Linked DNA regions of Homo sapiens. The protein of the gene in region 2 purifies or fractionates together with the protein of the main gene of each other region. This does not show direct contact. Each region holds a gene or a part of one and is shown on either strand. Other genes may lie near its edges.

Region 1 (3,500 bases), on a different chromosome or scaffold from region 2:
AAAATGTTTTCCTTTCATCCTTGTCGCTCAGCTACCCGGTTCCTCTCCATGTATGCAACCTGTCTTACTTTTTCTTTTGTATCCTTCCAGAGATATTTTAGGTTTCTGAGGTTTTTAATACTTTGCTTTTCTGCTATGTGCATTATAGATGTTGTAGACTTGTACCAATCACTGTTCATTCACACATTGTAGGACTTCCCTTGAATATTTTGAGGATAAAAGATTAATTCAAAAGGAGTCAAATAGTCTAGTAGGAAATCTTTCAGTCTAGTAGAGGAGAGAAAAATGTATAGAAAGAACTGCTAATGTGTGGTAGAAATTGCTCCTTACTGTTACAGACATAAAAAAGTATACTAGAAGTTCAGTGAAAGGAGGAATTTACAAACTGAGTGGAGGATTGGAGGAGATTTGAGGTTGAGCTTATATTTGAGCTGAATTTTAAAGATGAGGAGGAGTTTAGTATTTTAGGAAGAGGAAGTACTCTGAGCAGAAGCAGGACAAGAGGAAAGTAAAGGGTTTGTACAACATATATTTTTATTTAAAAAAATGAGTGCCAGGCACTATGCTCATTTGCAGATGCAATGGCAAATAAAACAAACACAGTCTCTTAATGGATGTCTTGCCTTATGGAGCTTACAGTCTAGTAGGGGAAATGGATATTAATCAAATAATCACACAGATGTAAAACCGCATCTGGTAAGTAGTATGAAGGAAAAATACCTAGTGCTCTGATTGTCAGTAGTGGAGGATTTAACCTGGTGGAGAGGTGAGGGAAGGCTTTCTCAGATCCATGTACTGAGACCTGAAGGATGATAAGTAGGCAAAGGGGAGAGAGAACAGCCTTCCAGGAGGGAACCTTATGAGTGTGAGGGATGGAAAATATGTCAATGTGGCTGGAGCACAGAGAGCAAAGGTGATGCTGGTTTGAGATAAGATGGAAGAAGTGGACTGGGACCAAAGCGTAGGGAAGCCATTTTGAGTTGTAAGCAAGAAGGATTTGAGGTGTGGGGATTGGTGATATGATTATTTTGCATTTTAAGAGATTATTTCTGACTTTAGTATGGAGAACTAAATTGTTGGTTGGAAGAGGACCTTAGAAATATGGTAGATCAATTAGGAAATAGGTAGTGGAGGAGATAGAAATGGGCAGATTTAGTAAGTAAAATCTATAGAATTGGCAATAGATTTGAAATAGGGATGAGGAAGAGGGAAGTGGTAAGGATGACTCCTAGTATTTGGCTCACATAATGTAGAGATCAGTTGATCTAGATTTTTTTTTTGAGATGAGGTCTTGCTCTGTTGCCCTGGCTGGAGTGCAGTGGAATGATCATAGCTCACTGCAGCCTTGAACTCCTGGGCTCAAGCGATCCTCCCACTTCAGCCTTCTGTGTGGCTGGGACTACAGGCATGTGCCACCATGCCCAGCTAATTTTTATTATTATTTTTTTTTGTAGAGATGTCTCATTATGTTGCCCAGGCTGGTGGGCTAGGTTTCGAAGAAATGGCAGTGAGTTCAGTTTTGGGAGAGCAGCATTTACAGTATTTTTGAGACAGAGATTTCCAATAGGCAGCTGTTGGAGGTTGGAGCTTAGAGGAGAGATCTGCGCTAAAGATATAAAATAATATAGTTAGATTGAATGAAAGGAAGTAGTGGGAAATATTATAAAGCTATATTATGGGACTAGATATATCATGGAGGGCTTTGAAATATAGCCTTCAGTCTATAGTTTGGGTTTTGTACTACAGTTGTAAACCATAGAAGTTTGAACAGCAGAGTGACAAAGGCTCTACTTCAAAAAGACTAGGCCATAGATGAGTTGGAGAGGGCAGCGGTTAGTGCCTATACCAGAGATACTTAAGACTGGAACAGGTACATCGAGGAGAGAAGGGGATGGCTGGAGAGCTGTCGTAGAAAACAATATACATAGGTAGACAGCTGACTGGGTGAATGGGATGAGGAAGATGGATGTGTCAAATGGATTTTCCCAGGAGCCTGGATAACAGAGAATGATAGGAAAAGGTTTAGGGATAGCATAGAACAGGAAAGTGGAGTTTATTAATCTGTTCAGTTGTTTTTTTTTTAAGTTCATATTTTACATATCACCCCGTAGCATTAATTATTTAAGTCATACTTGGCATCTGATGAGAATTCTCTAAAGTTCAGACTTAGATTTTAAGCTAGGTCTTCATGCTGCTTTTGCCATAACAAAATTCAGGTTGTGCATGGGAATGTGAGGCTATGGGTTGTTTTTAATTTATTAATTTGGTCTTTATTTTCCTTTTTTTTTTTTTTTTTGAGACAGAGTCTTGCTCTGTTGCCCAGGCTGGAGCGCAGTGGCACAATTTCAGCTCACTGCAACCTCTGCTTCCTGGGTTCAAGTGATTCTGCCTCAGCCTCCCAAGTAGCTTGGATTACAGGAGCCTGCCACTACGTCCAGCTAATTTTTGTATTTTTAGTAGAGACAGGCTTTCACCATGTTGGCCAGGACGGTCTCGATTTCTTGACCTCGTGATCCGCCTGCCTCGGCCTCCTGAAGTGCTGGGATTATAGGTGTGAGCCACCATGCCCGGCCTATTTTCCCATTTCATATGAAGTTTCCAGTATCTGTTTCTAAAAAGTAAAGACACTTAATGTAATCACAATATGGTTATCACATCTAAATATAAATGTACATTAATTCCTTAATATCAAAAATGCAGTGTTCAAATTGCCAGTTGTCTCATAAATGTTAAATGTTGCATTTTAAAGTTATATTTTATATAATCAAGATCTATATAAGGGTCCCATGGCAAAGGTTGATATGTCTCTTAAGGCTATTTTAGTCTACATATTCACTCACCATCTCCCCAACCTCCCACCTTATTTGTTGAGGAAACAAGGTGGTTTACTCTCAGCTCGATTTTGCGGATTTCATTATCATCGTGTTGCTTGACATGTTCTTCTGTCCTCTATTTCCTACTGAGGTGTGATCAATTTAGATTAGATTAGATTTTTTTTGCAAGTTATTTTGTACTAGACTCAGTGGTTAAAAGTGTGTTAGAAAATAAGAGCTGCTAAATTGTTACGTGGCACAGAAAGTGGTGGGCAAGCACCCGGCAGAGAGAGACATCAAGGGAATTGGGTGGCCCTGGTTAAGAATAGCTTAATAGAGGTGATCTTAGAGAATGTGTGGGAGAAGAAAGCACATATAATACTTTCAGCAAGAAGAACATCATCAAGGTAGAAAGGGAAATAGGAAGAATCAGATTTGGAGGGCTGTGAAAGCCAGGCAGAAGAATTTGCAGTTGGTGATGCTACTAAGTATGGAACTACCAGAGGTTATAGAACTGGGATGAGATATGTAGTAAAGGTGCTGTTTTAGAAAGACAGGTTTGGAAATAATTCAGATAGAGAGTTGAGGACTGAGTTTGGAGAATTTGGTTGGGGCAGAGGAAGGGTGGTCACCAAAAAAGGAAATGATACAGGATCAGTTCAGGGAAATAGGAAGATGTCATAGAAG
Region 2 (3,084 bases):
GAGGACACTAGGGAATCCTCCATTCCGTCCAGAGGGAACCAGAGGGGCTGATCAAACCAGCAGTCACAGGGGCCGTTGTGAGGTCAGTGGCCTTGGACGCAGGTCAGTCTTCCAGAGGGTCCTGGCTGCTTTTCCTCACATTCTTTACACTGTGAGCCCCTGGAAGCTCATGCTCATCCTGGGGGCCCCATGGAAGCCAGATGTACCCCCGACTGGATTCAGGCACCCAGCTCCTGCCCGGCTCTGTCAGCTCCTGTAGGGGCTGGAGTGTTGGTGGACTGAGTCCCAGAAGGACATGTGGGGCGGGGGAATCCCATTATCTGCCCTGGAAACATTCTGCCTGTGCTCCCAGGGGTCCCTAGGCCTGCTGCCCCCATAGGCCAGCACCCCCAAACTGCAGACACCCTCTGCAGGGCGGGTCAGCACGGGGCCTCCGTTCCCCTCCTATCCTTCCCTCAGGGTCTTGCCACCTCCACTCCCAGTGCTGGAGAACTCAGGGCTTCTCTGCCCCTGTTCTGTCTATGGAGTGAAGGGCTGAGACCCCTAAAACAAGGAAAGGCGAGTTTGGCCTCCTTGCGGGGTAGGGGGGGCTGTATGTATCTTCCACTCCTCCCTCATGGAGGTGCCCCTCATGGAGAGGCCAGGGGACCTTGAAGCCCTGAAATACAAGCTCAGCAGGGGAGACCCAGGACAGCATATGGGGCCTGGAGGTGTGGGCGGTGGGTGCTGCAGGCCCCAGCCTCGCCCTCGCTGGTCTCTGCCTGCAGGCGTGAACGATGGTGACATGCGGCTGGCCGATGGGGGCGCCACCAACCAGGGCCGCGTGGAGATCTTCTACAGAGGCCAGTGGGGCACTGTGTGTGACAACCTGTGGGACCTGACTGATGCCAGCGTCGTCTGCCGGGCCCTGGGCTTCGAGAACGCCACCCAGGCTCTGGGCAGAGCTGCCTTCGGGCAAGGTAGGGCCTGCTGTCCCCTTCCACTGAGGCTGAGACCCACAGCACAGCCAGCTCCCAGGAGGGGCAAATCCCCTAAGACGAAACAGTCAGGTTTCAAAGACATGCAAATTGGATTCCTATTAATTTAGCAAGAGCAAACACTTTTTTTTTTTTTTTTTTTTTTTTTTTTTTTTGAGATGGAGTCTCGCTCTGTTGCCCAGGCTGGAGTGCAGTGGCACAATCTCGGCTCACTGCAACCTCCGCCTCCTGAGTTCAAGTGATTCTCCTGTCTCAGCCTTCTGAGTAGCTGGGATTACAGGTACCTGCCACCATGCCCGGCTGATTTTTGTATTTTTTAGTAGAGACAGAGTTTCACCATGTTGGCCAGGCTGGTTTTTAAACTTCCGGTGTCAAGTGATCCGCCCGCCTCAGCCTCCCAAAGTGCTGGGATTACCACACCCGGCCTATGAGCAAACATTTTCAATGGTGCTGAAGGCCTGCGGATCAAGTTCTGATGGGACTGCTCCACCCACACTTGGCCAGTGATGGTGGCGGGTGCTTGGGCAGGTTCAAGAGCTCGGCTGGGCTCGTTCCCTCCGGCCCAGAAACTCCACTCCAGGGAGTTTATCCCATTGAAACAATTTCTCCTCAAAAGAAAAGTCTGCAGGAAGATTTCCACTGACACAGCAGTTGCGATTCTGGAAAAAAAAGAAACAATCCATAAACTATTTAGCAGCAGGGATAGTCACACAATTACAGTATGTGAACCTGATGTTGCAGGGATAGTCACACAATTACAATATGTGAACCTGATGTTGCAGGGATAGTCACACAATTACAGTATGTGAACCTGATGTTGCAGGGATAGTCACACAATTACAGTATGTGAAACTGATGTTGCAGGGATAGTCACACAATTACTATACATGAATGTGATGTCGCTGAAGCAGCCGGTAAGCTTTATAAGCATGAAGGCTAAGTTTATGGCCTGACATTGCAATCACAAATCCAGCCCATGCTGGAATATCCTCCGTGGTTCGCTGGTGAAGGACCTGTAAGCAGATGGACCCACACGGCCGGGGCGGAGAACAAAGGGCTGAGTCGCGCTGTGGGACTCCTGGGTGCAGTCGTCACGCCCCCAGCCCTGCCATCTGCTGTGTCCACAGGATCAGGCCCCATCATGCTGGATGAGGTCCAGTGCACGGGAACCGAGGCCTCACTGGCCGACTGCAAGTCCCTGGGCTGGCTGAAGAGCAACTGCAGGCACGAGAGAGACGCTGGTGTGGTCTGCACCAATGGTGAGCGGGGGCGCACCTCCCTGCGGAGGCCCCAGTGTGCCCTGGGGTCCCGTGGCCCCTGCCCCTCCCAGCACCACCCCCCCACGCACATGAAGCACACAAAGGTTCCTTCCACTACCGCCTGCCCACTCCGCATGGAGAGGCCCAGACGTCCCAAGAGCCCACCAGCTCCCAGTCCCACAGTCCCAGACTCCTCCCCAGCCCCTTCTGGAGAAACACCCAGAACCACCAAGTCTCCATGCAGAACCCGAGTGTGGGGCAGTGAGCCACAGTTTCAGTGAGCATGACACCTGGCTCCAGCCTGACCTGAAATGCCAGCGTCCGCTCAGAAATACACTTCACAGCACGCGACAGGCTCAAGCCCGTCCTGGCGGAGGGAGTCCCGGCTACTCGCAGCCTCAGCCTGCTTCCCCCAACCTGGCCCAGTTTGGAGGGAACCCAGGCTGCTCTGCAGGTTGGAGCCTCTGGATCTGAGTTTCTTGTTTTTCTTTCATGCCGAGGTGGCTCTTCCTGGGCTTGCACGTGACAACCTGGGCATTTCCTGCCCACTGCCCTTTGCCAGGAGTTGGAGGCCCCTAAGGCAGGACGGGTCGAATCCCAGGGAGCCCCTGTGCCCACATGGGATGGACAAGTGGCTGGAGCTGAGCCTGGACTCACAGTGGGGGAAGCCCAGGAGACGCCATGGGGCTGTCGGGGGCCAGGGGAGGCGGCGGGGAGCACACGGGGCCATGGGCGCACGGCCAAAGCTCCTGGGGCAGGAGAGCTGTGGTAAGGCGTGCAGGTGGGAGGGAGCTGGGGGTCCTGCGGTGGCTCAGGTTTTAGGAGGCCCAGGGCAAGCCCACCTGGTT

What was found.
Region 1: the proteins of LGALS3BP (region 2) and FBXO45 purify together in Homo sapiens (co-immunoprecipitation; 4 studies listed by BioGRID and IntAct, with this or other methods). This does not show direct contact.

The regions. Positions count from the first base shown.
Region 1 is NC_000003.12:196,571,660-196,575,159, forward strand, and holds part of FBXO45 (F-box/SPRY domain-containing protein 1), read left to right. Parts: intron 1-3,500. UniProt on the Homo sapiens protein: Component of E3 ubiquitin ligase complex consisting of FBXO45, MYCBP2 and SKP1. Functions in substrate recognition but also plays an important role in assembly of the complex.
Region 2 is NC_000017.11:78,973,840-78,976,923, reverse strand, and holds part of LGALS3BP (galectin-3-binding protein precursor), read left to right. Parts: intron 1-767; coding exon 768-959; intron 960-2,104; coding exon 2,105-2,236; intron 2,237-3,084.